4 linked regions of the Homo sapiens genome follow. The protein of the gene in region 1 interacts with the protein of each later gene in a biochemical or structural test. Each region holds a gene or a part of one and is shown in the gene's direction. Other genes may lie near its edges. The genes, in order: H4C1, KMT5A, CREBBP and PRMT5.

Evidence for each region.
Region 2: the proteins of H4C1 (region 1) and KMT5A are reported together in a solved structure, tested with the Homo sapiens proteins (6 studies listed by BioGRID, with this or other methods).
Region 3: of the proteins of H4C1 (region 1) and CREBBP, one has a biochemical effect on the other in vitro, tested with the Homo sapiens proteins (7 studies listed by BioGRID).
Region 4: of the proteins of H4C1 (region 1) and PRMT5, one has a biochemical effect on the other in vitro, tested with the Homo sapiens proteins (6 studies listed by BioGRID).

Annotation. Positions count from the first base shown.
Region 1 is NC_000006.12:26,017,183-26,023,357, forward strand, and holds H4C1 (histone H4), read left to right. Parts: upstream 1-4,466; 5' UTR 4,467-4,496; coding exon 4,497-4,808; 3' UTR 4,809-4,868; downstream 4,869-6,175. Other genes in the region: H1-1 (histone H1.1), read right to left, coding at 1-550; H3C1 (histone H3.1), read left to right, coding at 3,308-3,718. UniProt on the Homo sapiens protein: Core component of nucleosome. Nucleosomes wrap and compact DNA into chromatin, limiting DNA accessibility to the cellular machineries which require DNA as a template.
Region 2 is NC_000012.12:123,378,837-123,387,821, forward strand, and holds the start of KMT5A (N-lysine methyltransferase KMT5A), read left to right. Parts: upstream 1-5,295; 5' UTR 5,296-5,362; coding exon 5,363-5,372; intron 5,373-8,985. UniProt on the Homo sapiens protein: Protein-lysine N-methyltransferase that monomethylates both histones and non-histone proteins. Specifically monomethylates 'Lys-20' of histone H4 (H4K20me1).
Region 3 is NC_000016.10:3,723,221-3,730,772, reverse strand, and holds the end of CREBBP (CREB-binding protein), read left to right. Parts: intron 1-898; coding exon 899-3,055; 3' UTR 3,056-5,719; downstream 5,720-7,552. UniProt on the Homo sapiens protein: Acetylates histones, giving a specific tag for transcriptional activation. Mediates acetylation of histone H3 at 'Lys-18' and 'Lys-27' (H3K18ac and H3K27ac, respectively).
Region 4 is NC_000014.9:22,925,910-22,934,426, reverse strand, and holds the start of PRMT5 (protein arginine N-methyltransferase 5), read left to right. Parts: upstream 1-5,050; 5' UTR 5,051-5,065; coding exon 5,066-5,175; exon of another isoform or gene 5,176-5,201; coding exon of another isoform or gene 5,202-5,260; intron 5,261-5,811; coding exon 5,812-5,930; intron 5,931-6,215; coding exon 6,216-6,301; intron 6,302-6,766; coding exon 6,767-6,901; intron 6,902-7,524; exon of another isoform or gene 7,525-7,612; coding exon 7,613-7,725; exon of another isoform or gene 7,726-7,871; coding exon 7,872-7,921; exon of another isoform or gene 7,922-7,966; intron 7,967-8,130; coding exon 8,131-8,294; intron 8,295-8,517. UniProt on the Homo sapiens protein: Arginine methyltransferase that can both catalyze the formation of omega-N monomethylarginine (MMA) and symmetrical dimethylarginine (sDMA), with a preference for the formation of MMA.

The DNA of each region.
Region 1 (6,175 bases):
GGCTTTTAGCTACTTTCTTGGGCTTTACAGTTTTGGGTTTTTTTGGATTCTTGGAGGATTTCCTTGTTGCCGCAGGCTTTTTAGCCTTTTTCGGAGTCTTGACGCTCTTTTTGCTAGCCCCCGTGGCCTTTTTGAGCTTTTTAGATGCACCCGTTGCCTTAGTTTTTGTAGCCACCTTTGAGGCGCCGGGCTTGGTTTCCACGGAGGACGCCTTCTTGTTGAGCTTGAAGGAACCCGAGGCTCCGGTACCCTTTGTCTGCACCAACGTTCCCTTGCTTACCAGGCTCTTAATGCCCAGCTTAATGCGGCTGTTGTTCTTCTCCACGTCGTAGCCTGCGGCCGCCAGCGCCTTTTTAAGAGCTGCCAACGACACACCACCACGCTCCTTAGAGGAGGAAGCAGCCTGCACGATCAGCTCTGACACGGAAGGGCCAGCGGGTTTTTTCTTGGAGGCTGCTGCAGCCTTAGCAGGTTTCTTTGCCTTCTTGCCAGCTAAAGGTTTCTCAGGAGCAGCAGAAGCGGCGGGGGCGGGAGGCACTGTTTCAGACATGGTGACTAACACAGCACACCAAATAAAGTGGTATAAACCTGACGAAGCAGGATGCGAAAAAAAGGCCCCAACGCAGCCTATTTATAGGGTGGGACTGCGCCGTGATTGGTGCCCGTCAGTGCCCGCCCCTCGCGCCCTAGCGCCCCCTGCGCGCTGCCGAGGGTTTCGCCCAGTCTCAGAAGGCAGCTGGGGGCCTCTAGGGCCTATGGTCCTGCTCCCCTCAACGCAAGCAAACACACAGAAAAAGCCGCTCTGGTTGCCTCATTGTGAAGGAAATTGTAGGCAGACTGCCGCCCAGTAACATCAGAGGGTACCGCTTCTCTCTCAAAAAGCAGCTCTTTTTTAGGGAGTAGGTTGAGAGGGGGCGGTTTACAAATGCAGTGCCACAAGCATCCGAGGAGTTTTATTAGAAATTTTTAGAGGTCCGTTGCCAGAGATGTTAGTTTTTAATTTGCAAGAAATGTAAAATACAGTGTTTTGAATAGTTGCGGAGGGAGAGAAAAGTGCGAGTTTTAGGCCGTGTTAGGGCCAGTTGTCATCAACTCTATTACATTTTCTGGCAATGTTTTAGAGCGATGTGTCTCGCGAATACCTTTCACGTCAAACAAGAATGAATCGTAGACAACACCAGAATTCACAAACGCTGCAATTAATACTCAAACTGCAAGTGTGGAAACGTTTCTGCACTTGCAACTTATTTCCACAGTCCAATGTGGGATGCACTTCAGGAATTTCCAATGCCCTTTTCATCCATACAACATGCCCCAAATTGGTATTAAGGTTTACAACCTGTGTTCCATGTCAGCACACGCAATCAGCGCACCATGACATGGTCAACTCATTCTTTTATTCAACAAATATTTATGGGCCTCACAAGCCTGCGAAAGGCGTTAAATGCTGGGTCCACGAAACCGGTTCCCTGACAGGCATTCTGCTGGGGAGTTAAGTCCACTTAGTGTGAAAGCAAACACGGGTGATAAATGCAAGCACACCCTGGGGATAAGATTTTATGGTAACAACCCTTTAACTTGTTTGTGGCTGTTAAGTGCATTTCAAAGTATCAATAAGCTAAAACGATCTCACATTGCCAATCAGAGACTCAGCTAATGGGAGAATAAAAAACTATTAAATCGACATCCACTTCTACAATCCTATTCTGGATAACCCCCTAGCACAGCACAGCAGAGAGTGAGGTAATGCGGTCTTATTTCCGCTCCTGCTGTGGTAGTTTTCAAATAAGTCCGAACCATGCTAAGTAACCTGAGCTTTTCCCCTTTTTGTTCAAACAACGTGCCAACCAAATAATGGAGTGGTCCCAGATAAGTATTGTACCCATCTTCTGCACCAGTGCTTCCTACGTCCCATTTTATTGAGAAGGCATGCATTCAAATATTTCACGTAATTTCTAAAAATTTGGAAAATAACGGTTGGAAACTCTACATCTTGGTTTGACGGCTAGTCAGTTATGAAACACAGGTATACAAAATTGGAAGATTTTTGTAAGTAAACCCTTTGTGAAAGATATAAACCTTTCTTAGTGTAATAAGCGAGGTATCTGAAAAAACGCAACTTTTGAAAAGGAAATACTCCTAATTATCTGATTCAGGAGTTTCCACTTTAAATAATGGGTTCTGCCTCCCTTTTTTCTATTGGGTTAAACTGGTTTCAAATAAAATGGGAACGCTCCATGCAAATGAAGGATGATAGATCTGCTTTCTAAATGGCTGTTCAAGAAAATAGCCTAAACCAATCAAAAGATAGAATGTGGCCTGTCTCTTGTGAATTTAAAAAGGTCACAATCCACTTTTCAGTGTTTTGAGATTTTCAAAATGATTGCATTAGCTCTTGGCAATGCTAAATTATGTTCCTTGCGAACCACTATCCAGTTTCTCTTGGGCCAAGTCCACCTCCTGCTCCGCAAGAGGAACAACTCCCAGCTGGTGGTACCTGGCGGCAGTGCTGGAGAAACGCCATTTTGTGACTGGCAGAGTACACCTAGGCTTTAGAAAACAAAAGCTGCAGAACGCTGCAAGTTTAGGATTCAAAGAGCATAATCAAGAGAAAGACGTCTCATAGAAAATGTTTCTGAGTAATAGTGTAATCCTACTATGTTTGAGATGCTTTGTAGATTTCAATAACACTCCTAAGTCAATTAAAGCATTACAAAGGAATCCAATTCTTGTGAAAGGTTTCAGAAATTCCCGTAAAGGGTACATTTCCGGAGAGGAGGTGAGCAGTATTCCCTCTTTTTTTTTTTTTTTTTTTTTTTCCTAAAGAGCTGAAGGTTATACGGAATTGGGGAATTATAATACCTTTGGAATCAATGCCTTGTTTTATGGAAAATAAACACAGCCTTCAGGTTATGAAAACCAGATGTAGAAGAGGACAAGTTTAAAAAATTAAAGTCCAAGCCGGCGCAGTGGGGCTCCCCTGTAATCCCAGCTACTCTGGATGCTGAGGCGGGAAGATCCTTTGAGCCCAAGTTTAAGACCAGCTTGGGGAACAAAGCAAAAGTAAAATAAAATAATAGTAGTAATAAAATACCACTTAAATAATCATCTGTAGAGTTGGAATAGAATATAGTAGCCGGTGAAACTGCACGATTGTTGCTGGCTTAAAGATAGACCAATCAGAGTGTGTAACGTCATATTTAGCGTCTTCTATCATCCAATCACTGCACTTTACACACTATAAATAGAGCAGCTCATGGGCGTATTTGCGCTAGTGTTGGGTGTTCCGCTGTGCTGTTTTTCCGTCATGGCTCGCACTAAGCAAACTGCTCGGAAGTCTACTGGTGGCAAGGCGCCACGCAAACAGTTGGCCACTAAGGCAGCCCGCAAAAGCGCTCCGGCCACCGGCGGCGTGAAAAAGCCCCACCGCTACCGGCCGGGCACCGTGGCTCTGCGCGAGATCCGCCGTTATCAGAAGTCCACTGAACTGCTTATTCGTAAACTACCTTTCCAGCGCCTGGTGCGCGAGATTGCGCAGGACTTTAAAACAGACCTGCGTTTCCAGAGCTCCGCTGTGATGGCTCTGCAGGAGGCGTGCGAGGCCTACTTGGTAGGGCTATTTGAGGACACTAACCTGTGCGCCATCCACGCCAAGCGCGTCACTATCATGCCCAAGGACATCCAGCTCGCCCGCCGCATCCGCGGAGAGAGGGCGTGATTACTGTGGTCTCTCTGACGGTCCAAGCAAAGGCTCTTTTCAGAGCCACCACCTTTTCAAGTAAAGTAGCTGTAAGAAACCAATTTAAGACAAAAGGGAATGCATTGGGAGCACTTTTCGTTTTAATGCTACTGAAGGCTTCAAAACCAATCGATTTCGGCCGGTCGCGGTGACTCACGCCTGTAATTCAAGCACTTTGAGAGGCTGAGGCGGGCGGATTACCAGAAATCAGGAGTTCGGGATCAGCCTGGCCAACATGGCCGAATCCCGTCTCTACGAAAAATACAAAAACACGCCGGGCGCGACGGCGAGCGCTTGTAATCCCAGCTACACTCTGAAGGCTGAGGCAGGAGAAACACTTGAACCTGAGAGGCAGAGGTTTCAGTGAATCGAGATGGCTCTAATGTACTCCAGTCTGGGCGACAGAGAGATTCGGTTAAAAAAAAAGTTCGACTTAAAATAATTCTGGAGTCAGAATGGGTTTACATTTAATTCTTAACCCAGTTCCTCAAAGCCTGTAGCTCTGTTAAGAAAATAAAGGCCATTGGTCAAGCCTGCTTGGTCCCACCCTCATCTCCCCACCCTCCCCCAATCGCTGCTCCCGCCATTTCCTGGGGCTTGGAGGAGGGGTTAAAGGAGCGGACTGTAGGCGTCACATTTCCCGCCTGCGCGCTTTTCAGTCTCAGTGTCCGCTGGAGGTGGGGGCAGGGGTAACGTAGATATATAAAGATCGGTTTCCTATTCTCTCACTTGCTCTTGGTTCACTTCTTGGGAAGTCATGTCTGGACGTGGTAAGGGCGGGAAGGGTTTGGGTAAGGGGGGTGCCAAGCGCCACCGCAAGGTGTTGCGTGACAACATCCAGGGCATCACCAAGCCGGCCATCCGGCGTCTGGCCCGGCGTGGCGGTGTGAAGCGGATCTCTGGTCTGATCTACGAGGAGACTCGCGGGGTGCTCAAGGTGTTTTTGGAGAACGTGATCCGTGACGCTGTCACCTATACGGAGCACGCCAAGCGCAAGACAGTCACTGCCATGGACGTGGTCTACGCGCTTAAGCGCCAGGGACGCACCCTTTATGGCTTTGGCGGTTAAGGTTGCTGATTTCTCCACAGCTTGCATTTCTGAACCAAAGGCCCTTTTCAGGGCCGCCCAACTAAACAAAAGAAGAGCTGTATCCATTAAGTCAAGAAGCTCAATGTGTAATTAAGATGAATGATACTGAGCTGACATCCTAAAAAGGAAAGATTAGGGGAACTCCAAGTTTGCCCTCCACTCACTACATATGGGTAGGGGAGCAACGATATTCCAACTCTGAAGAAAGAGTGGAAAAAAAGTAGTGTTAAAAATTTGTATTAGTTTCCAAGGGACAAAGAAGCGCTGCCCAATCAATGAGGGCCATTCGTAGCTGTCAACCAATCAGAACTGATGAGCTAATATTTCCTGAGGCAAGCCAGGGAGCCGGAGGGGAAGCTAAGAAGCTTATTGAGAAAAAACAAAAACCCTGTTTTAGGAAAAAAAAAAACCATCTTTTAGCGATTATGAAATAAAATCACAGAGACATTTAAGTATCCCTCAATCATGTACTGAGAGCAATACTAAATTTATCGCCACCAATACAGTTTTACTCTATTAAAAAGACCCTGAAAATTGAAACCCTATTCAGACTCCTGGAATACCCAGGACACTAAATTCAGGGGAGATTAAAATCTGTTTTAGAGAGAAAAGGCACCTTTTTCAGTGTTACCGCGGCCTTCAGCAGTTAACCTTTTTTTTTCCCCCTTTACGCAGAAATGGAAATTTGGGTGATAGAAATATTCCGAAATTAAATTGTGATGATGGTTGTACAACTAAGAAAACACGGTAAAATTCATTGAACTGTACCTAAAGTGGGCAAATTTTGTGGTACATTAAATATCAATAAAGCTGATTATATACATACACATATATTTTTATATATGCAGAGAGAGAAATGATGCAAGCAGGGTGGTAGGACATGAGGTTGGTAGCATAGGCAATGTTGGTCTGTGAAGGGCCACCTGTGCTAAACCTGGAAGCCTGGGGTTTGTCCAGTCAAGCCATGGTAGCCATAGTTTTAAAGGATGTTCCTGATGCAGTTATGTGTTCCAGTTAAGTACATCTAGCTTCAGAACTCAGCTGGAAAAGGGATGTGAACTTCAGGTTAGCTGATAGGGAAATATCTTACTCTCATCTGAGTAAATATTCACAAATGCCTCTCATTGTGCTCTTTTTGGTACCATTGTTATAGGACTGATTTCAGCCTCACGATGTTAGCTTCAGTGATGGATGTCTCTTTATTTTGAGGTCCTGTTTTCCACCTGACAGTTTTCATCCAGGATTTCTTGAGGAATTACACAAGTACCCAGCTTGGCTTAATTTAAAACTGACAATGGAGAGAATTCATAGCTGCATTCTGGATAGTTTCAGGAATCAGAGGAGCA
Region 2 (8,985 bases), on another chromosome or scaffold:
CAGAGAGGTTAAAATAGGAAATTCATTAAACGGGTGACAGAGGACTGAGAAGGCAGAAAGGGAACACCGAGGCAATGTAAATAACAACTAGAGGAAGCAGCTACCACCTCCAAAGCTGGAGATAAAAATAAAAACAAGTTGGGGTTAGCACAGCTAGCAAAATCGGAGGAAGAGCCCCGGAGAGCTCGTTCTCACCCCTCTAAGAAAGAGGCACATAGCCAGGCGCTGTGATTCATGCCTGTAATCCCAGCACTTTCAGAGGCAGAGGTGGGCGGATCACTTGAGGTCAGGAGTTCGAGACCAGCCTGGCCAACATGGCAAAACCCTGTCTCTACTAAAAATACAAAAAATTAGCCTGATGTGGTGGTGCATGCCGGCAATTCCAGCTATGTGGGAGGCTGAGGCAGGAGAATCGTTTGAACCCAGAAGGCAGAGGTTGCAGTGAGCTGAGATTGTGCCACTGGGGTGACAGAGCGAGACTCTGTCTCAAAAAAAAAGACAGAAAGAAAAAAAGAAAGAGGCACAACCAGATTGGTGCTGGGCCTCCCAGAGCCCTGTGTAGTTGGGACTCAAAACTCTGAGGAGGGGTCTGCTGTTGGTGCCTCCGCGGGAGCACAAGGAGGCTGTCTCTGGGAGTGTACAAAGAACCTGGAGACTGAACCAAATACTACTGCCAGAGGCAGTGTTATTACTGAGGGGAACATGCTAGGAATAGTAAGCAAACAGGCAAGAACAAGTCCCCTCTCTTCCTCCTGCCTCCCAGACTGCTTCTATCTGCTCTCATTGGAAGAACCTAACATTAACTGAGAACGGGGAATTATGGTTTGCTGCTCTGTATCACAGAACAGGGTAGAAATGTGGATATTACCCAGGCTGATCTCAAACTTATGAGATCAAGCGATACACCTGCCACGGACTCCCAAAGTGCTGGGATTACAAGCATAAGCCACCAGGCCTGGCCTGCCTTTTTTCCTTATAGCATTAATCACTATTTATAATGATCTTTTGGGCTGGGAGCAGTGGCTCATGCCTGTAGTCCTAGCAATTTGGAAGGCCAAGGTGGGCAGATCACTTGAGGTCAGGAGTTTGAGACCAGCCTGGCCAACATGGCAAAACCCCACCTCTACTAAAAATACAAAAATTAGCTGGGTGTGGTGGCGGGTGCCTGTAATCCCAGCTATCTGGGAGGCTGAGGCAGGAGAATCGCTTGAACCCGGGAGGCGGAGGTTGTGGTGAGCCAAGATCCTGCCACTTCACTCCAGCTTGGGCGATAGAGCAAGACTCTGTCTCAAAAAATAAATAGGCCGGGTGCGGTGGCTCACCCCTGTAATCCCAGCACTTTGGGAGGCCGAGGTGGACTGATCATCACCTGAGGTCAGGAGTTTGAGACCAGCCTGACCAACATGGAGAAACCCTTGTCTCTACTAAAAATACAAAATTAGCTGGGTATCGTGGCGCATGCCTGTAATCCCAGCTACTCGGGAGGTTGAGGCAGGAGAATCGCTTGAACCTGGGAGGTGGAGGTTGCGGTGAGCCGAGATTGTGCCATTGCACTCCAGCCTGGGCAACAAGAGTGAAACTCTGTCTCAAAAAATAAATAAATAAAATAAATAAATTAATTAAATTAAATAATCTTTTGGATGGGCGTGTGGCTCACGCCTGTAGTCCCAACACTTCGGGAGGCCAAGGCAGGTAGATCATTTGAGGTCAGGAATTCAAGACCAGCCTGGCCAACGTGGTGAAACCCCTTCTCTACCAAAAATACAAAAATATGCCCGGGCGCGGTGGCTCACGCCTGTAAGGCAAGCGCTTTGGGAGGCTGAGGCGGGTGGATCACTTGAGGCCAGGAGTTCAAGACTAGCCTGGGGAGCATGGTGGAACCCCGTCTCTACTAAAAATACAAAAAAGAAATAGCTGGGTGTTTTGGCGCATGCCTATAATCCCAGCTACTCGGGAGGCTGAGGCAGGAGAATTGCTTGAACCTAGGAGGCAGAGGTTGCAGTGAGCCGAGATCACGCCATTGCACTCCAGCCTGGGTGACAGAGCGAGACTCCGTCTCAAAAAAAAAAAAATAGGTGGGCATGATGGCACACTCTTGTAATCCCAACTACTTGGGAGGCTGAGGCAGGAGAATTGCTTGAGCCCAGGAGGTGGAGGTTGCAGTGAGTCGAGAACGTGCCCCTGCACTCTAGCCTGGATGACAGAATGCGACCCTGTCTTAAAAAATAAATAAAATAAAAATAATCTTTTAGGCTAGGGGTGGTGGGCTCATGCCTGTAATCCTAGCACTTTGGAAGGCTGAGGCAGCTGGATCACATGATGCCAGGAGTTTGAGACCAGACTGGCCAACATGGAGAAACACTATCTCTATTAAAAATACAAAAATTGGGCTGAGCGCAGTGGGTCACGCCTGTAATCCCAGCACTTTGGGAGGCTGAGGCCGTCATATCAATTGAGGTTAGGAGTTCGAATCCAGCCTGGCCAACATGGTGAAACCCCATCTCTACTAAAAATACAAAAATTAGCCAGCCATGGTAGTGGGCGCCTATAATTCCAGCTACTCAGAATGCTGAGGCAGGAGAATTGCTTGAGCCCAGGAGGCAGATGTTGCAGTGAGCCGAGATCAAACCACTGCACTCCAGCCTAGGGAGACAGAGAGAGACTCCGTCTCAAGAAAAATAAAAATAAATAAACAAAATGATCTTTTTTTTCTTTTTTCTCTTTTTTTTTTTTTGAGATGGAGTCTCTCTTTGTCGCCTAGGCTGGAGTGCAGTGGCGTGATCTCGGCTCACTGCAAGCTCTGCCTCAGCCTCCCGAGTAGCTGGGACTCCAGGTGCCTGCCACCACGCCCGGCTAATTTTTTTTTTTTTGTATTTTTAGTAGAGATGGGGTTTCACCGTGTTAGCCAGGATGGTCTCGATCTTCTGACCTGGTGATCCGCCCACCTCAGCCTCCCAAAGTGCTGGGATTACAGGTGTGAGTCACCACACCCAGCCTTAAAATTATCTTTTAAATAATGCCTTGTTTCTTCCCTAAAAGAATGCAGGGAAGGAGCTGTGTCTACTTTCCCTTCGGATCCTTGGGGGATCCAAAACAGCGGCAGGCATAGAGCTCAATAAATGTTGAAATAATCAATTTTGGAGAAAGCAAACACCTCTCTCTCTATATATATTTTTTGTTTGTTTGTTTGTTTGTTTTGAGACAGAGTCTCGCTCTGGTGCCCAGGCTGGATTGCAGTGGGACGATCTTGGCTCACTGCAACCTCTGCCTCCCGGGTTCAAGCACTTCTCCGCCTCAGCCTCCTGAGTAGTGAGATTACAGGCACGCACCACCACGCCTGGCTAATTTTTGTATTTTTAGTAGAAACGGGGTTTTCACCATGTTGGTCAGGCTGGTCTTGAATTCCTGACCTCGTGATCCACCTGCCTCGGCCTCCCAGAGTGCTGGGATTACAGGTGAGAGCCACTGCACACTGCCACACTTCCACATATTTATGGAAGCTGTAAGGCATGTTGGAGATTACGGCACCAGCTCCTTCATTTGACAGGTAGGGAAATGGAAGGCCAGAGAGCTGAACTGATGTGCCAAGTGACACAGTGACTTTGTGACAAAAGTGTCCTTTTCTACCTTTCCCAGTGCTTTCACATATATCATTTTATTTTCCTTTCCTATTTTCCTGGTGCTTTGGAAGAGTCTTTGGGCAATGGTTGGGTCTCCAAAACCTTTTCAATTACCAAAGAGACAGGATGGATTAGTGACCTCGTCCCACACCCCTGGGAGGGGCCCCAGGGAAGAGCAGTAGTAACTGGACGCCTTCCCTGAGTCCAAAGCAGACACTCCAGGACACCTGATTCTCTGGGAACATACTGACTGAGCCCCCTCTCTCAGAGGGGAACAGCGAATACTTGCTTCCCTCGGGATAAGGTAGCCATTTAGTGTTTGAACAGTGGAGAGACTGACCCAGGCCCTGCAATTACATTGCTGGGTGACCTTGGGCAGCGCGTAAGTGACCCGCTTCCTCTATTGCCCCATCTGTAAAATGGGTGGGTGTGAAGCATTAGGATCTTTGCGGTCCTGGAAGGACCTTCCCTACTGACCCAGTTAGTTGGTAGGAGTTGTGTCTGTGGGTTTTTTTTTTTTTCTTTTTTTGAGACGGAGTCTCGTTCTGTCGCCCAGGCTGGAGTGCAGCGGCGTGATCTCGGCTCACTGCAAGCTCTGTCTCCCGGGTTCACGCCATTGTCCTGCCTCGGCCTCCCAGGTAGCTGGGACTACAGGCGCCCGCCACCACGCCCGGCTCATTTTTTTTGTATTTTTAGTAGAGACGGGGTTTCACCGTGTTAGCCAGGATGGTCTCGATCTCCTGACCTCGTAATCCACCCGCCTCGGCCTCCCAAAGTGCTGAGATTACAGGCGTGAGCCACCGCGCCCGGCCGGGTTTTGAATACTGGAATATTCAATAAACCTTTTTTTTTTTTTTTTTTTTTGAGACAGTGTTTCGCTCTTGTTGCCCAGGCTGGAGTGCAATGGCGCGATCTCGGCTCACCGTAACCTCTGCCTCCCGAGTAGCTGGGATTACATGCTATTCTCCGGCCTCAGCCTCCCGAGTAGCTGGGATTACATGCATGCGATACCACGCCCGGCTAATTTTGTATTTTTAGTAGAGACTGGGTTTCTCTATATTGGTCAGGCTGGTCTCGAACCACGGACCTCAGGTGATCCGCCCGCCTCAGCCTCCCAAAGTGCTGGGATTACAGGCATGAGCCACCGCGCCCGGCCAAAACCTTTCAAACCTGAGAATGAATGGATCAAACTGCTGGAGAGGTCGGTGTGCTGGAGTTGCTAAACTGCTGGGAGACTCAGGTTTCCCAGCTCTTAAGGGAAGATCGAGGGGTCAAAGGTCGGGTTCCGGTCAAGCCCACAGAGAACCGGAAGTCCCAGATCCGGTCGGCTCGGAGCCCAGGGCTCCAGCCGGGCTACTCACGCTCCGGAGGCGGAGCTTCAGCAGCGGGAGGGGGAGGAATCTGGGGCCTCCCAATGGCAGCTCGGGTGTCTTCCATCGCAGCCATTCAACGTCTGGCGACGGTCAAATTTAAACACCCCTCCCACCTCCTCCGCCGGGACCTGTCGGGAAAGCGTTTGCAGTTATTGCGGCGGCTGGACACGCCCCGCCGCCGAAGAGGCGGGAGAAGGGCGGGGCCTTTCTCCGAGTTGGCCTATCACTACGGGCAGCCTGCGGAGAGGCGGGAGGCGGCGCCAATCGGGGCGAGCAGCTGGAGCCCGGCGGAGCAGTTGGCTGAGTTGTTGCAACTTTTTTCGAAAGCTGGGTTTCCCGGGAGATCCCAGGCGGTGACAGAGTGGAGCCATGGCTAGAGGTATTTGCCCAAGTGGCCGGCACCGGAGCGGCTGGGTCGGGGGTCGTGCTGGAGGGGTTGCCGGGGTGGAGGCAGCGGCTGCGGGGAGGCGTCCTCCTCGGGTGGCTCGGGGCAAGCTTGGGGACCCGCGTGGGGGGAGAGGGGGTGCTGCTGCGGAACCCGCCGGCCCCCCCTTGCGGCTCCAGATGCCCCCAGAAACCCTTCCCACTGCCGTGCTTCTGTTTCCCTTCTATGAAGTGAACACCTGCGGGCCTGCCTCTCCACGGCAGCAGATCCATATGTCAGAGCTCTTTGGAAACTAAAGCGCAGGGCACCTCCAGGGAATAGGTGTTATTGATAGAAGTGGGGCGGGGGCAGGAGTGAGGCTTCGCCCACTTTGGGGCCCTCTCTCTTTGGGAAAGGAGGTGATCCCGAGGCGAAGGCGCAGATCGATAACCTGCATATTGGGGTGCGCGTCAGGGTGGACACCGCAGCAGGCGCCTTTCCTCCCTCCCCACGTCCTGAGTCAGCTCTGCGCCGCTGGAGCGAAGGCCGGGCCCCGCTGGCCCACTTTGGGGTAAAACGGGTTCCTGGCATCTCGCGGGCGCGGTCGTTCGCCCCGCATCTGGTCAGGACTTCGCCCCCCGGTAGATGGCTTGGGTGGGCTTGTACAGCCCTGGGAGGCGATGCCCTGTCTGAAGTCCTCTGCATACTTAGTTGGCTGTCAGGACAGTGCCTCCCAGGTATGCGGCAAAGAGATCTCCAACCGCTTGGTCATTTCCAGCCACTGCGTCTCCTTCACGCCAAAGGGCCAAAAACTTGAGCGTGAAAGTTGAGTAGAATTAGTATTAAAAAAAAAAAAAAGTTTTGGTATTATATTTTTCTCAAAATTTCAAGGCTTCAAGTGTTAGTAGGAATTTGCTTTAGTGCAGTATGCTCCCTATAGCAATAATAATGAATAAAATAATGATTCATTCAGTAAATATCTATTGGGTCCCTTTGTTTTCAGGCCCTGAAGTCAGTTGCATCATCTATTCTCCTAGCATCCCTAGAGGTTCTTTTGGGATAAGACTTACCCAGAGCCTGATGAAAAAATGAGGCATAGTAAACTTCAGGTTAAAGAGCTTCATCACTCAACTCTTGGAGAAAATTAATACTAATATTTTTCCTTTGAAAAGTGTTAAGCATCTAAAAGTATATTTAACATTATCTGACTAATTTATCTGACAAATTTTAATAAAACTATGCTTCCTGGGTTCATTTTTCTCATCACAGCAAAATCATTTAAACTACTTGTTTTAAAAGTAGTGCATTAATTAATATATGAAGAAAACTAACCATCTATCATTGAAATACTTAAAATATGACTAAATAATAATTATGGCCAGGCATGGTGGCTCACACCTGTAATCCTAGCACTTTGGGAGGCCAAGGCGGGCAGATCACCTGAGGTCGGGAGTTCGAGACCAGTCTGACCAACATGGAGAAATCCCGTCTCTACTAAAAATACAAAATTAGCCGGGCATGGCAGCGCATGCCTGTAATCCCAGCTACTTGGGAGGCTGAGGCAGGGAGAATTGCCTGAACCTGGGAGGTGGAGCTTGCAGTGAGCCGAGATTACGTCACCGCACTCCAGCATGGGCAACAGAGCAAGACTCCATCTCAAAAAAACAAACAAGAACAATAACAAAATAATAATAATTACCACTGAGGGCCAGGCACTTTATTAACTCAATTGATCTTTACAAATTGTTATTCTCATTTTTTGGAAGAGGAAGCGTGAAGTCCAAACTTGCTGTCCAGACTCTAGCTTGGCTGGGTCTTTGCTTGTGCCACCCAACCTCCCTTACTTACCCAAAGCGAAGATAATGTTTGTCAGCTCCTCCCATGGCAGCTTACAAATCACCTATGTAATTATTAGTTATTGATTCTCACTGTCTCACTTGACCCCCAAATTAGTAGTTACCTGTTTCTTAGGCTTTACTGCCCTTGCAAGCTATTAAATTGGATATTTAGATTTAGATTTTTTTTTTTTTTTTTTTTTTTGAGACAGAGTCTCTCTCTGTCACCCAGGCTGGAGTACAGTGGAGTGATTTCAGCCCGCTTCACCCTCCCTCTCCTGTGTTCAAGTGATTCTTGTGCCTCAGCTTCCCAAGTAGCTGGGATTACAGGCACCTGTCACCACACCCAGCTAATTTTTGTATTTTTAGTAGAGACGGGGTTTCGCCATGTTGGCCAGGCTAGTCTTGAACTCCTGACCTCAGGTTATCTGCCCACCTCGGCCTCCCAGAGTGCTGGGATTACAGGCAAAAGCCACCACGCCTGGCCAATATTTAGAATTGTAAATACCAAATCATTTACAGCACTTCAAATGAACAGTCTTTTTCTTCTAGAAAATTGGGCTTTGAACTTGCAATTCACTTTGAGAGCCCTGCTGGGTCACAGAAACAAACTGGTCAGATGCCAGGCAACACCTCACTCATTTTGAAGTTTTATAATCATGCAAATATTTACAACCCCAATATATTAGTCTCAGGGGTCAGTCCACCTACCTTTCACTATTTCTACTGCCATTGTTGAATGGTCTCTTGGTTGGTTGCCCTCCTCATTTTGCCATCTTCAGTTCATTATCCCTTAGCACCTGGTGGGGGGGTCTCCAAAAATACAGACTTTTCTTTTTTTTTGGGAGACAGAGTCTCACTCTGTCACCCAGGATAGAGTGCAGTGGCACAATCTTGGCTCACTGCAAACTCCACCCCCCTGGGTTCAAGTGACTCTCCTGCCTCAGCCTCCCAAGTAGCTGGGATTACAGGCATGCGCAACCACGCCAAGCTAATTTTTGTATTTTTAGTAGAGACGGGGTTTCGCCATGTTGGCCAGGCTGGTCTCAAACTCCTGATTTCAGGTGATTTGCCCTCCTCTGCCTCCCAAGGTGCTGGGATTACAGGTGTGAGCCACTGCGCCCAGCTGGTGTATTTGTTATATACGTATAAACTTGCGGAGAAAGGACTGTTTTGAAACTTACATTGAATGATCTGTATTTACATCTTCTAGGTACTGGAGCTGCAGAATTGAGAGGAATAGGTGCTAGACTTGTAATGTGTCCCCTGCAATTGGGGGCTCAAATGCAGAGAAAGCTATGACCATGAGTGGGGCGTGGGGTGTGGCTCGGTATACTAGAATGTGAAATGGATAAGATGATCTATGTGGGTGCTTCCTGCTCCAAAACCATGATTCTCATGGCAGTTAAGCTGCAAAACTTCTCTGCCTTGCAGAAATAGAAGACGCTTTCAAATGGCTCAACCTGGTTATCAGAGTGTCACTTTCGAATCCTCTTTCACCCTCTGGGTAATCTTTTGGATATTCAACTGTAGTAGGCTCTGCAGAGGGCATAGGCAGAGTACCTAGCCCACTGGAGTTAGTGGTTGGGCTGGAGACCCTGCCTTGAAGGATGCTAAAGCATGAGCTGATTTGGGAGGGATTGTCTGAGCAGTGACCTGTCACCACCTAATCCTACTCAGTCTTATCCGTTCCAATGGGAGTCGAGGGAGGCTAGGTGGGAGGATGGCTACAAACAGCCATTTGCTTATCTGTGGATGTTGGAAGGTGCTCTGGTGGATTATGGAATTCAAGG
Region 3 (7,552 bases), on another chromosome or scaffold:
GGCCGAGTCAGGCTGTGCAGGGCAGGCAGGTGACAGATCCCACCATCCCCCTCCCAGGACAGTCACCATCACCTGCCAACCCGGAGCCTCCTCACTTGCTGTGGTGTCTGTAGCGGGGCAGAGCGGGTCCTCAGCAGAGCGAGGGCCTTTCTTCCCTCCCCACCTTCACACACTTCTTCCGCTTTCCACCTTTCTCCAGTCTCCTTTGTCCTCTTTCTAGTTTCTGAATGCGGCAGTTTTCATATCTTTTTGTGAACACAGTCATGGTACCTGGTCCTAGGGCTCCATCAGGTTGCCAGGTGCGAGCAGTTTTCAGTAACTTGGGCTTGCGCGTTGGGGAAGTCCCACTGGTGCACTGCGGATAGCTCAGGCCTTCCCAGAGGCACTTCACGGCAGCTGTCGGCGCTTTGGGAGGGACCGGCCTCCCTCAGCCTTTCACTGTCTGGCTTCATAGTTTGAGTACAGGAGTTGGACAGGCTGTGGCAAGGGCTGATGTGACTCCCAGGTCAGAGGAAGTCGGAAGGAAGGGGGCTGGTGTCTACTGTCCGTGAGCTTACAGGCCAGGGGTTCTTGGGGCATGGGTCAGGTTATCTTTGAGCCTTCAGGGCTGTTGCCAGGAGTGAAGGTCCTTGGGAGCAACACATAGGCAGTCCATGCCCCCGTCCTGTCCATGATCCCATGTTGTCCATGATCCCATCCCGTCCATGATCCCATCTTGTCCGTGCTCCCGCCCTGTCCGGGTCTCCCACCTGTCCGTGCTCGCATCCTGTCTGGGTCTCCTATCCTGCCTGGGTCTCCTGGCACAGACCCAGACTTAGCGGTGGAGGGAAGCAGCCAGGATGCCTGGTGGTACTGGGTCCCATGCTGACACCGGCCTGTCCCCTTTCCTTGCTTGCAGGACTACGACCTCTGCATCAACTGCTATAACACGAAGAGCCATGCCCATAAGATGGTGAAGTGGGGGCTGGGCCTGGATGACGAGGGCAGCAGCCAGGGCGAGCCACAGTCAAAGAGCCCCCAGGAGTCACGCCGGCTGAGCATCCAGCGCTGCATCCAGTCGCTGGTGCACGCGTGCCAGTGCCGCAACGCCAACTGCTCGCTGCCATCCTGCCAGAAGATGAAGCGGGTGGTGCAGCACACCAAGGGCTGCAAACGCAAGACCAACGGGGGCTGCCCGGTGTGCAAGCAGCTCATCGCCCTCTGCTGCTACCACGCCAAGCACTGCCAAGAAAACAAATGCCCCGTGCCCTTCTGCCTCAACATCAAACACAAGCTCCGCCAGCAGCAGATCCAGCACCGCCTGCAGCAGGCCCAGCTCATGCGCCGGCGGATGGCCACCATGAACACCCGCAACGTGCCTCAGCAGAGTCTGCCTTCTCCTACCTCAGCACCGCCCGGGACCCCCACACAGCAGCCCAGCACACCCCAGACGCCGCAGCCCCCTGCCCAGCCCCAACCCTCACCCGTGAGCATGTCACCAGCTGGCTTCCCCAGCGTGGCCCGGACTCAGCCCCCCACCACGGTGTCCACAGGGAAGCCTACCAGCCAGGTGCCGGCCCCCCCACCCCCGGCCCAGCCCCCTCCTGCAGCGGTGGAAGCGGCTCGGCAGATCGAGCGTGAGGCCCAGCAGCAGCAGCACCTGTACCGGGTGAACATCAACAACAGCATGCCCCCAGGACGCACGGGCATGGGGACCCCGGGGAGCCAGATGGCCCCCGTGAGCCTGAATGTGCCCCGACCCAACCAGGTGAGCGGGCCCGTCATGCCCAGCATGCCTCCCGGGCAGTGGCAGCAGGCGCCCCTTCCCCAGCAGCAGCCCATGCCAGGCTTGCCCAGGCCTGTGATATCCATGCAGGCCCAGGCGGCCGTGGCTGGGCCCCGGATGCCCAGCGTGCAGCCACCCAGGAGCATCTCACCCAGCGCTCTGCAAGACCTGCTGCGGACCCTGAAGTCGCCCAGCTCCCCTCAGCAGCAACAGCAGGTGCTGAACATTCTCAAATCAAACCCGCAGCTAATGGCAGCTTTCATCAAACAGCGCACAGCCAAGTACGTGGCCAATCAGCCCGGCATGCAGCCCCAGCCTGGCCTCCAGTCCCAGCCCGGCATGCAACCCCAGCCTGGCATGCACCAGCAGCCCAGCCTGCAGAACCTGAATGCCATGCAGGCTGGCGTGCCGCGGCCCGGTGTGCCTCCACAGCAGCAGGCGATGGGAGGCCTGAACCCCCAGGGCCAGGCCTTGAACATCATGAACCCAGGACACAACCCCAACATGGCGAGTATGAATCCACAGTACCGAGAAATGTTACGGAGGCAGCTGCTGCAGCAGCAGCAGCAACAGCAGCAGCAACAACAGCAGCAACAGCAGCAGCAGCAAGGGAGTGCCGGCATGGCTGGGGGCATGGCGGGGCACGGCCAGTTCCAGCAGCCTCAAGGACCCGGAGGCTACCCACCGGCCATGCAGCAGCAGCAGCGCATGCAGCAGCATCTCCCCCTCCAGGGCAGCTCCATGGGCCAGATGGCGGCTCAGATGGGACAGCTTGGCCAGATGGGGCAGCCGGGGCTGGGGGCAGACAGCACCCCCAACATCCAGCAAGCCCTGCAGCAGCGGATTCTGCAGCAACAGCAGATGAAGCAGCAGATTGGGTCCCCAGGCCAGCCGAACCCCATGAGCCCCCAGCAACACATGCTCTCAGGACAGCCACAGGCCTCGCATCTCCCTGGCCAGCAGATCGCCACGTCCCTTAGTAACCAGGTGCGGTCTCCAGCCCCTGTCCAGTCTCCACGGCCCCAGTCCCAGCCTCCACATTCCAGCCCGTCACCACGGATACAGCCCCAGCCTTCGCCACACCACGTCTCACCCCAGACTGGTTCCCCCCACCCCGGACTCGCAGTCACCATGGCCAGCTCCATAGATCAGGGACACTTGGGGAACCCCGAACAGAGTGCAATGCTCCCCCAGCTGAACACCCCCAGCAGGAGTGCGCTGTCCAGCGAACTGTCCCTGGTCGGGGACACCACGGGGGACACGCTAGAGAAGTTTGTGGAGGGCTTGTAGCATTGTGAGAGCATCACCTTTTCCCTTTCATGTTCTTGGACCTTTTGTACTGAAAATCCAGGCATCTAGGTTCTTTTTATTCCTAGATGGAACTGCGACTTCCGAGCCATGGAAGGGTGGATTGATGTTTAAAGAAACAATACAAAGAATATATTTTTTTGTTAAAAACCAGTTGATTTAAATATCTGGTCTCTCTCTTTGGTTTTTTTTTGGCGGGGGGGTGGGGGGGGTTCTTTTTTTTCCGTTTTGTTTTTGTTTGGGGGGAGGGGGGTTTTGTTTGGATTCTTTTTGTCGTCATTGCTGGTGACTCATGCCTTTTTTTAACGGGAAAAACAAGTTCATTATATTCATATTTTTTATTTGTATTTTCAAGACTTTAAACATTTATGTTTAAAAGTAAGAAGAAAAATAATATTCAGAACTGATTCCTGAAATAATGCAAGCTTATAATGTATCCCGATAACTTTGTGATGTTTCGGGAAGATTTTTTTCTATAGTGAACTCTGTGGGCGTCTCCCAGTATTACCCTGGATGATAGGAATTGACTCCGGCGTGCACACACGTACACACCCACACACATCTATCTATACATAATGGCTGAAGCCAAACTTGTCTTGCAGATGTAGAAATTGTTGCTTTGTTTCTCTGATAAAACTGGTTTTAGACAAAAAATAGGGATGATCACTCTTAGACCATGCTAATGTTACTAGAGAAGAAGCCTTCTTTTCTTTCTTCTATGTGAAACTTGAAATGAGGAAAAGCAATTCTAGTGTAAATCATGCAAGCGCTCTAATTCCTATAAATACGAAACTCGAGAAGATTCAATCACTGTATAGAATGGTAAAATACCAACTCATTTCTTATATCATATTGTTAAATAAACTGTGTGCAACAGACAAAAAGGGTGGTCCTTCTTGAATTCATGTACATGGTATTAACACTTAGTGTTCGGGGTTTTTTGTTATGAAAATGCTGTTTTCAACATTGTATTTGGACTATGCATGTGTTTTTTCCCCATTGTATATAAAGTACCGCTTAAAATTGATATAAATTACTGAGGTTTTTAACATGTATTCTGTTCTTTAAGATCCCTGTAAGAATGTTTAAGGTTTTTATTTATTTATATATATTTTTTGAGTCTGTTCTTTGTAAGACATGGTTCTGGTTGTTCGCTCATAGCGGAGAGGCTGGGGCTGCGGTTGTGGTTGTGGCGGCGTGGGTGGTGGCTGGGAACTGTGGCCCAGGCTTAGCGGCCGCCCGGAGGCTTTTCTTCCCGGAGACTGAGGTGGGCGACTGAGGTGGGCGGCTCAGCGTTGGCCCCACACATTCGAGGCTCACAGGTGATTGTCGCTCACACAGTTAGGGTCGTCAGTTGGTCTGAAACTGCATTTGGCCCACTCCTCCATCCTCCCTGTCCGTCGTAGCTGCCACCCCCAGAGGCGGCGCTTCTTCCCGTGTTCAGGCGGCTCCCCCCCCCCGTACACGACTCCCAGAATCTGAGGCAGAGAGTGCTCCAGGCTCGCGAGGTGCTTTCTGACTTCCCCCCAAATCCTGCCGCTGCCGCGCAGCATGTCCCGTGTGGCGTTTGAGGAAATGCTGAGGGACAGACACCTTGGAGCACCAGCTCCGGTCCCTGTTACAGTGAGAAAGGTCCCCCACTTCGGGGGATACTTGCACTTAGCCACATGGTCCTGCCTCCCTTGGAGTCCAGTTCCAGGCTCCCTTACTGAGTGGGTGAGACAAGTTCACAAAAACCGTAAAACTGAGAGGAGGACCATGGGCAGGGGAGCTGAAGTTCATCCCCTAAGTCTACCACCCCCAGCACCCAGAGAACCCACTTTATCCCTAGTCCCCCAACAAAGGCTGGTCTAGGTGGGGGTGATGGTAATTTTAGAAATCACGCCCCAAATAGCTTCCGTTTGGGCCCTTACATTCACAGATAGGTTTTAAATAGCTGAATACTTGGTTTGGGAATCTGAATTCGAGGAACCTTTCTAAGAAGTTGGAAAGGTCCGATCTAGTTTTAGCACAGAGCTTTGAACCTTGAGTTATAAAATGCAGAATAATTCAAGTAAAAATAAGACCACCATCTGGCACCCCTGACCAGCCCCCATTCACCCCATCCCAGGAGGGGAAGCACAGGCCGGGCCTCCGGTGGAGATTGCTGCCACTGCTCGGCCTGCTGGGTTCTTAACCTCCAGTGTCCTCTTCATCTTTTCCACCCGTAGGGAAACCTTGAGCCATGTGTTCAAACAAGAAGTGGGGCTAGAGCCCGAGAGCAGCAGCTCTAAGCCCACACTCAGAAAGTGGCGCCCTCCTGGTTGTGCAGCCTTTTAATGTGGGCAGTGGAGGGGCCTCTGTTTCAGGTTATCCTGGAATTCAAAACGTTATGTACCAACCTCATCCTCTTTGGAGTCTGCATCCTGTGCAACCGTCTTGGGCAATCCAGATGTCGAAGGATGTGACCGAGAGCATGGTCTGTGGATGCTAACCCTAAGTTTGTCGTAAGGAAATTTCTGTAAGAAACCTGGAAAGCCCCAACGCTGTGTCTCATGCTGTATACTTAAGAGGAGAAGAAAAAGTCCTATATTTGTGATCAAAAAGAGGAAACTTGAAATGTGATGGTGTTTATAATAAAAGATGGTAAAACTACTTGGATTCAAAGATGGTTCAGATTGGCTAATGACTTACAGTTAGCTCAACGGCTCGTCATTATAGGATTGCAGATGCGGGCCCGGTGCGGTGGCTCACGCCTGTAATCCCAGCACTTTGGGAGGCCAAGGCGGGTGGATCATGAAGTCGGGAGTTCGAGACCAGCCTGGCCAAGAAGGTGAAACCCCATCTCTATTAAAATACAAAAAAATTAGCCGGGTGTGGTGGCAGGCGCCTAGAATCCCAGCTACTCAGGAGGCTGAGGCAGAGAATCGCTTGAACCCAGGAGGCGGAGGTTGCAGTGAGCCGGGATCGTGCCACTGCACTACAGCCTGGGCAACAGTGAGATTTTGTCTCAAAAAAACGATTGTAGGTGGTGCTGGCCGGGCTTGGTGGCTCATGCCTGTAATCCCAGCACTTTGGGAGTCTGAGGCGGGCAGATCACATGGTCAGGAGTTTGAGACGAGCCTGGCCAATATGGTGAAACCCCATCTCTACTACAAAAAATACAAAAAATTGGCCGAGGTGTAGTGGCTCACGCCTGTAATCCCAACACTTTGGGAGGCCAAGGCAGGCAGATCACGACGTCAGCAGTTCGAGACCAGTCTGACCAGCGTGGTGAAACCCCGTCTCTACTAAACATACAAAAATTAGCTGGGCATGGTGGCGCACGCCTGTAATCCCAGCTACTCAGGAGACTGAGGCAGGAGAATCACTTAAACCCGGGAGGTGGAGGTTGCAGTGAGCCAAGATTGCACCACTGCACTCTGGCCTGGGCGACAGAGCAAGACTCTGTCTCAAAAAAAAAAAAAAAAAAAAAATATTCAGCCGGGCATGGTGGTGTGCACCTGTAGTCCTAGCTACTAAGGAGGCTGAGGCAGGAAAATCGGTTAAACCCAGGAGGCGGAGGTTACAGTGAGCCAAGAGCGCGCCACTGCACTCCAGCCTGGGCAACAGAGTGAGACTTCATCTCAGAAAGAAAAAAAAAATTGCAGATGTTCAGTGGAGTTTTTCTCTACAGAGCATGTGTTTGATGCTATCTTTGAAATTCTAGCATGTTAGAAACATAGAATGAGCTGTCCCTGGATAATGTGGCATGGAGAGGCTTCTGCTTCTAAGATCTCAGGTTGGGCTGGGCATGGTGGCTCACGCCTGTAATCCCAGCACTTTGGGAGGCTGAGGTGGGCAGATTGCCTGAGCTCAGGAGTTGACAACCAGCCTGGGCAACGTGGTGAAACCCCGTCTACTAAAATACAAAAAATTAGCCAGGCGTGGCAGCATGCGCCTATAGTCCCAGCTACTCGGGAGGATGAAGCGGGAGAATTGCTTGAACCCAGGAGGCAGAGGTTGCAGTGAGCCGAGATCACGCCACTGCACTCCAGCCTGGGGAACAGAGCAAGACTCTGACTGAAAAAAAAAAAAAAAAAATCTCAGGTTGAAGACGTGTAACTGTCTTCCTTTTTTCTTTTTGAGACAGAGTCTCCCTCTGTCACCCTGGCTGGAGTGCAGTGACGTGATCTCGGCTCACTGCAACCTCTGCCTTCCGGGTTCAGGCGATTCTCCTATCTCAGCCTCCCGAGTAGCTGGGACTAGAGGCATGTGCCACCATGCCCAGCTAATTTTTGTATTTTTAGTAGAGGCAGGATTTCGCCATGTTGGCCAGGCTGGTCTTGAACTCCCGACCTCAAGTGATCCACCCGCCTTGGCCTCCCAAAGTGCTGGGATTACAGGCGTCAGCAAACATGCCCGGTCCTTTTGATTACTATAAAATAGAACCAAAGATTTTATTTGAGCCAAAACATGCTTGGAGCATTGCATGGTGAAATAAGCTGTTTTTAAAAAAGA
Region 4 (8,517 bases), on another chromosome or scaffold:
GTGTTCTCTTCTTTGACAATTAACAACCGTCAAATATTTTTTGTTTGGTTTATTTTTGACCTATTCTATAAAGAAATTTCCTAATACCTTTGTATTAATTATTGGTATAAACCCTAATTGGTTGTATTATATAATTACTATATTAACATACTGTTACGTTTTATTTATTAATCTTAAATATTTTAGGAATCTAACATTTATATCCATAAGTAAGGGTCTATAGCTTTTTTGGGAGTGTTATTTCTGACAGGTTTTGATATTAGATGTGTTCTGTCTTCATAAATAAATTGGGTAGTTTTCCATCTTTTTCTATGTTCAGAACAGTTCCTGCTTTCTATTCATTTTGACAGATAAACACTGTATAATAGAGATGACAAAAAAGAGAATGCAAATCTGCACAGATTATTTTGCCTCAGTAACTCTGCCACTTTCATAGCTGGAGTACAGCCTTGATTGTGAAAAAGAAATTTGGAGCAGTAGGAGGGTCAAACAGGCCATTATTTTGGTGTTGAAGAGTGTGGCTGGCTGGGCAGGCACAGAGATGAGTGAAGGTGGGCCTGGGGAGGGAGGCAAGCGCTGAGGGAGGAGGGGAGCACAGTAGAAGATGCCAAGAGGTTTTCAATGGGCTAGAGGTGTTTAAACAAGGACAAAAGAACAAGATAAGGTGGAAGAATTGGGCCTGAAAGCGAGGAAAGCCAGGGGGATAAGTGGGAGCATTATCTGGGAGTGGGTACCTCTTTCTTCCAGAAAGTCTCCAGTGCTCTGGCCTATTGGTCATTGGCTCCTGTTGGAGAAAGTAACATTATTTCTCACCCAGGGTATTTGCCCTTCTGTCCCACCATTTCCCTATCTTCATCTCAGCCAAGGCAAAAGTCCCATAGTATAACAGTGATTCACACACTTCTGGGCCCAAAAACTCAGCATGCAGAGCAGAGCAAAGCAGAACATAATGTAGACTTCACCAACTTTGACTTAACGCCTAGGGACAGGACCTGTTCAAGGCGCTCTATTTCTCTTCATTCCTTCCCTTCTTGCTCCTCTACAACTCATGTAGACAGACCCACGGTTACATGCTGTGTTTTATGGCACAGGAAAGTGCTATAGAAAAGGCTGAGAGCAACGTGGTATGGAGTTACTGAGAACTGTTCAGCATGATGCTAGCCACAATGCCGAGGCCATTTGGAATGAAAAGACAAAGACAGCACAGACCAAAGAAATTCAGCCCATGTAAACTTACTTTAGGGTCAGTCAGAAATTCTAGGTTCTTTTTACATGAATCCTTTAGAAAATTACTTTAACTGATGGCAAAACTGACATTATTGTTTTATAGATTGTCCTCTCTCCCTGTCACCCATGATGGGTTAGTTAACAACCAACAGAGCAGCTACCTGCTTGACATCAGGAGTGAGATGCCAGGAGCACAGATGGTCCACAATCTAGACAATTAGCTTCTAAAGAAGAAAAAACATCTAACAAGTCTTCTGTGAATGTAGAGTTTGGCTGGGCACAACTAGGGCAGAGAACAAGCAGACCTCCTCAACAACTCTTTCTTTTACCTCTTAAAATGCCAGTGAAAGTGGGGCGTCATGACTCACACCTGTAATCCCAGCACTTTGGGAGGCCGAGGTGGGTGAATCACCTGAGGTCAGGAGTTTGAAACCAGCCTGGCCAACATGGTGAAACCCCGTCTCTACTAAAAATACAAAAATTAGCCAGGCATGGTGGTGCACACCTGTGGTCCCAGCTACTTGGGAGGCTGAGGCAGGAGAATTGCTTGAACCCGGGAGGTGGAGGTTGCAGTGAGCTGAGATCATGCCACTGCACGCCAGCCTGGGCGACAGAGCAAGACTCTGTCTCAAAATAAAATGAAAAATGAAATAAAATATAAATAAATAAAATGCTGGTGGAGTACTCACCCACTTGCTGAGAACAACCATTTATTGGAAAGACCTGGAGGGAAGAATTCCAAATAAATTCTGTAGATACTCCAACTCTAAGGAGGGGGAGCATAGTGACTTCCTTCCAATGAATACAGTATGGAAAGTTGGGGCCGGGGAGAGGGTGGGAGAGAATCACTTAACAGTGGAAAAACTGGATAAACTACTTCTTTTCAGGTGATCAAGGTCAACATTAAGTCATAAATCATGTTCATAGTATGTACCCTTGATATGATGTGATTAAAATAGCACTTTTATTTTTTTGAGATGGAGTCTCGCTCTGTCACCCAGGCTTGGAGTGCAGTGGTGTGATCTCGGCTCACTGCAGCCTCTGCTTCCCAGTTTCAAGCAGTTCTCCTGCCTCAGCCTCCGAGTAGCTGGTATTACAGGCGCATGCCACCATTCCTGGCTAATTTTTGTATTTTTAGTAGAGACGGGGTTTCACCATGTTGGCCAGGCTGGTCTCGAATTCCTGACCTCAGGTGATCTGCCTGCCTCGGCCTCCTAAAGTGCTGGGATTACAGGCCTGAGCCACTGCCCCCGGCAAAAACAGCACTTTAACTCTGTGACCTTCCTTCCCAAAACACAGTCTAATCATGAGACAAACAGACAAATTCCAATAGAGGGGCATCCTACAATATACCTAACCAGTACTCCTCAAAACTACCAAAGTCATCAAAAACAAGGAACATCTGAGAAACTGTCATAGCCAAGAGGAGCCTAAGGAGACATAGCAACTAAATGTCATATGATATGCTGCATGGGATCCTGGAGCAGAAAAATAGTAACGATAATAGTGGACAAAAGCACCTCCAATCACTTCAGGCTTCATGGAGCTTTTTTTTTTTTTTTTTTTGAGATGGAGTCTCGCTCTCTCGCCCAGGCTGGAGTGCAGTGGCACGATCTCGGCTCACTGCAAGCTCTGCCTCCTGGGTCATTCTCCTGCCTCAGCCTCCTGAGTAGCTGGGACTACAGGCGCCTGCCACCACACCCGGCTAATTTTTTTTGTATTTTTTTTAGTAGAGACGGGGTTTCACTGTGTTAGCCAAGATGGTCTTGATCACCTGACCTCGTGATCCGCCTGCTTCGGCCTCCCAAAGTGCTGGGGTTTTTTTTTGTTTTTTTTTTTGAGACGGAGTCTTGCTGTTGCCCAGGCTGGAGTACAACGGCATGATCTAGGCTCACTGCAGCCTCCACCTCCCACCTCCTAGGTTCAAGTGATTCTCCTGCCTCAGCCTCCTGAGTAGCTGGTATTACAGGCGCACGCCACCACGTCTGGCTAAATTTTGTATTTTTAGTAGAGATGGGTTTCTCCGTGTTGGTCAGGGTAGTCTCGAACTCCCGACCTCAGGTGATCCGCCCGCCTCGCCCTCCCAAAGTGCTGGGATTACGGGCGTGAGCCACTGTGCCCAGCCTGGCCTTCATGGTGCATTTTTTAAATGCTTTGGTTTTTCCGACTTTCCTTTCCTCCTCCCCCTGCCCCGACATTATTTTGCTCTTGTTGCCCAGGCTGGAGTGCAGTGGCGTGATCTTGGCTCACTGCAACCTCCGCCTGCCGGGTTCAAGCAGTTCTCCTGCTTCAGCCTCCCGAGTAGCTGGCCGAGTAGCTGGGATTACAGGCGCCTGCTACCACGTTTAGGAGAGACGGGGAGTTTTCATGTTGGCCAGGCTGGTCTCGAACTCCTGACCTCAGGAGATCCACCCGCCTCCGCTTTCCAAAGTGCTGGGATTACAGGCGTGAGCCACCGCGCCCGGCCGGTTTTCCGGCTTTCATTCTTTTGGGGCACTTGCATTGCACCCAGGGTTCCCCAGAACTTATCCTACCCCACACCCTTTTCGTATTTCCTATGGCTCTGTCCCCAACGAGCTATGGTGATCTCAGTCGCATGGCCTCAGTTCTTTTCTTCTAGCGACCTCCATCCAACTTTCTATTACACAGCGCCCCCTAGACGTTCAATTCAGCATGACCAAACCCAAACCCTGATTTCCCAAACCCTCTTTCCGCATTTCTTGCTCACTGCATGGACAGAATCCTAGGCATCACCCCCTACTTTGCTTTCTCAGGACTCCTTGCCAGTCGGTCCCTAAGTTCTGCCAGCGGCGCCTGCGTGGGGTCTCTTGTACCGTGTTCTCCTCTCCATCCTTGCTGCCGAGCCCTCAACACCAGTGGGCCCCCTGCCTTCTGGAGTTCCCATTTACCTCCCTATGTCTTTCCTTGCTTCCTTCCTTTCCATCTCTAGCAGCTAATGACATGAGAAAATGTAGATTCTCTCTGGCCTCCATGCCAGCCAATTTCATGACTGCTGCCCACTGTAATTAATGAATTCCTTTTCTCTATCTTGAGGTGTGTGTGTGTGTTTAGGCGTTTATTTACACCTTTTGTGTTTGAAACACAAAACACTACTTCCTAGAATCACTAGGAAGTAGTAGCTGAGTTAGCAGTTTATTTTAATATGTAACATAGTAAGGTGACAAAGCTCATTTTAATAGCACCAGCCATTAACCCAGTTTTCTCAGTGTTCATATGGACGTAAATAATGACACAAGAAAAACACTTTTGAGGGTAGTTACGGGAAAAGCTGACATTACATGGCTGCATAACCCAACCGACTCAGGATCTGATAATGAAAGCGTGAAGATAATAAAGAAGCATCAAGCTGCGAAAGGAAAGGAAAATTACAAAATGCTCACGCAGCGAAGCTGCGAGGAACCCCACCGAGCCAGCCAGGAGTCGAACCTGGAATCTTCTGATCCGTAGTCAGACGCGTTATCCATTGCGCCACTGGCCCTGAGATGGCACTGTTTCTCTCCGTGATGGTACTTCAAGGTTATACTGCAGGGTTTCATGGGCGGTGTAGTCTCTCAACGGCGTTCTTCAGATAGACTAAGCATTCTGGGAGATTGAAGTTCGTCAGGAACCAGACCCTGAGATTGGTGGATCCATGCCGTACGCCACTGTGCAGCCCGCGGATTGGCAGGAAAAGCCACTCCCCATCCCTCCTGTTCGGGAGCTGTGGCAGACGCTCTGGTTGTTAAGGCGACTCGTCCCGCCTTCTGGGGCACTAGTTTGACTTTGTGATTGGCTACTAGTATCAAGGAATCCCGGCGTGGACAGCGCGAGGAGAAAGATGGCGGCGATGGCGGTCGGGGGTGCTGGTGGGAGCCGCGTGTCCAGCGGGAGGGACCTGAATTGCGTCCCCGAAATAGCTGACACACTAGGGGCTGTGGCCAAGCAGGGGTGAGGGCCGGACCTCCACGAGCGGAATGCGGGGTCCGAACTCGGGGACGGAGAAGGGCAGACTAGTCATCCCGGAGAAGCAGGGGTGAGGGGGTCGGCTAGGATGAGGAGGGGAGAGACTATTACTCTTTGGAGGGGAGGAGCCTCGGACCCAGTAACGTGAGGAAAATAACTTGTGGGAGGCCTGTGGTCACTGAGTCCCAAAGTTGGGAGAGTTGTTGGGTAAACTCTAAAGGGCCCTGGAGGTCGCGATTATTGTCTGGGAGTGGGAGGAGGTGTTAGGGGGCAAGGGAGAGAAGAGGCTAATTTTGACGGGGGAGGCATGGGCAGAACTGGGGCAAATCTGGATGTGATGGTCTTGGAAACATACTGACACCTGAGGAGAAAAAAATTCTACTTGTGGATATCCATCATTTTCTCCTTACTCATATGTCCCATGGCTGTGTTTTAGGGAGAAATTGAGGCACAGTACAGCAGAGTTGATATCCCCCAAGGTGGTCTGAACTCAGCAGCCTAGTAGGCTGAACTGATGGCAGCTGAAAGGGCTGTGCAAAATCAAGATAGCCTAAATCCAGTTGCTTGGCTCTCTGGCACTGCTGCTGTCTTTACATGATTCTGGGTCTGTCGCGGTTGTAGGTTTGATTTCCTCTGCATGCCTGTCTTCCATCCGCGTTTCAAGAGGGAGTTCATTCAGGAACCTGCTAAGAATCGGCCCGGTCCCCAGACACGATCAGACCTACTGCTGTCAGGAAGGGGTAGGGACCATCCCATATGCCCCTTAATTATTAGAGGCAATAACAACTTCTGCTTTATCGGGGCCCTCATTCTCCTCCTTTTCTGACTTGGATATATTTGTTAGTCCCTGGGATATAGATAACTTGTTTTCTCCTTGCTTCTCTATTCTGCATCAGGCTATCCCATGTCTATGTAGAAAAAACCTTTGTCTCTCATTTCTACTCTTGATTCCCAAAACTAAAAATTGAACAAGTAAAGTGCTGAACCTTATTCAGTATTTGTCTTTCTTGGGTGGGGGAGTGCAGACTGGAATACGCTAATTGTGGGAAAGCTTTCTCCATGGATTCGTCCAGACTCAAAAGTGGAGAAGATTCGCAGGAACTCCGAGGCGGTAAGACTGTTTGACTTCTCTGCTGGATTTTTCTAACCAAGCTGGGTGGGGAGAGTGGTCCCCTCCCATCCCCAATAACTTGGTAAATTAACTGATAGAATGAAATTAAAGCTATTAGGCTGGGTGCTGTGGTGCACACCTATAATCCTAGCACTTTGGGAGGCTGAGGCTGTAGGATCACTGGAGCTCGGGATTTCGAGACCAGCCTGGGCAGCGTAGTGAAACCCCATCTCTATAAAATATACAAAAATTAGCCAGGCATGGTGGTGCATGCCTGTGGTCCCAGCTACTCAGGAGGCTGAGGAGGGAGGATCAGTTGAGCTTGGGAAGGTCAAGGCTGCAGTGAGTGGAGACTGTGCCACTGCACTCCAGCCTGGGTGACAGAGTGAGACTTTGTCTCAAAAAAAAAAAAAAAAAAGCTGTTTGCTTGTTAGCTCAAACTTTTCCTCTTCATCTCCGTTCCAGGCCATGTTACAGGAGCTGAATTTTGGTGCATATTTGGGTCTTCCAGCTTTCCTGCTGCCCCTTAATCAGGAAGATAACACCAACCTGGCCAGAGTTTTGACCAACCACATCCACACTGGCCATCACTCTTCCATGGTATAGCTGAGGGGCTCCTTTCCTGCTGCATATCATAGTAGTCAGATTGTGCTAAGTACCTTCTTGTGCCTAGCCATTCAGTGAAGGGTGTGTTTGGCAGAATTGAAGTATCAGTATTGGCGGGCACAGTGGGTGATGCCTGTAATCCCAGCACTTTGGGAGGCTGAGGTGGGCAGATCACTGAGCTCAGGAGTTCGAGACCAGCTTGGGCAGCGTGGTGAAATCCTGTCTGTATAAAAAACCAAAACCAAAACAAAAACAAAAAAACACAAATTAGCTAGGTGGGGTGTCACACGCCTGTAGTCCCAGCTACTTGGGAAGCTGAGGTGGGAGGATGACTTGAACCTGTGAGGCGGAGGTTGCAGTTAGCTGAGATTGCACCACTGCACTCCAGCCTGGGTGACAGAGCCAGACCTTGTCTCAAAAAAAAAAAAAAAAAAAGGTCAGTATTGCGCACCTCTCCATCTAAAAGTGGTATGAAGAGAGTTTCAAAACATGTAAATGTAATTATTTTGGAAACTTACGTAAGACAAGGCAGATATTTACATAAGGATCTATATATAAGGTACATGTTCACTTACAAAATTACAAATTGGGAAAAGCATATAAAGGGATTAACGAGGTCTGGATGAAGTTTTTTTTATTGAGGGAAACTTTCTGGACCCAATGAGTTCAAAAGAGAGTTCTAAAAGGGTGACTGTTCATGTGCAGTTCTGGATGCGGGTACCCTTGGTGGCACCAGAGGACCTGAGAGATGATATAATTGAGAATGCACCAACTACACACACAGAGGAGTACAGTGGGGAGGAGAAAACGTGGATGTGGTATGTCTCCCTTTGCTGCTGTACCAGGGTGCAAGGGATAGGGTGAGGGGAAGTACAGGGTGCAACCTGTAGGGAGGTCTCCTTGAGCTGTGGTGATTGGTCGGCCATATCTAGTTTACTGTACTTTTCTGTATTTGACTGAACAGGTGGCACAACTTCCGGACTTTGTGTGACTATAGTAAGAGGATTGCAGTGGGTGAGTCCATGAGAATCCTGGGATGGGTGTGGCTTCTCTTACCTCCTGTGAATAAGAATCAGGAATTTCATATATAGTATACAATTTTGCTACTTCCCCTCTGTCTCAGACTGGCTTTCTCTTAAAGAAGTAAACAGATTTTGCGCAAAGGAGCAAGGAAGGGTTTCTTGCCTGGCAGTGGTTGACAGTTTTTCTTTTGCCTCATGTAGCTCTTGAAATTGGGGCTGACCTCCCATCTAATCATGTCATTGATCGCTGGCTTGGGGAGCCCATCAAAGCAGCCATTCTCCCCACTAGCATTTTCCTGACCAATAAGAAGGGATTTCCTGTTCTTTCTAAGATGCACCAGAGGCTCATCTTCCGGCTCCTCAAGGTGAGTGGTAGGAGGGTTCTAAAGGTAGTCCAGCTATACATCTTGCCTTATTTACCTGTGTATGATCGTTTTTTCCTGTGAGGCTGACTCTTTTTCTTTGGTTTCTGGGGAGCAATTTCAGTGAAGTTGGGAATCTTGAGAACAAAAAGGTAAATGCCAGTAGTAGCCCTAGAAACCTTTCAAAACAAACCAAACCTCATGAGAACTTTGCAGAAGGTTTCAT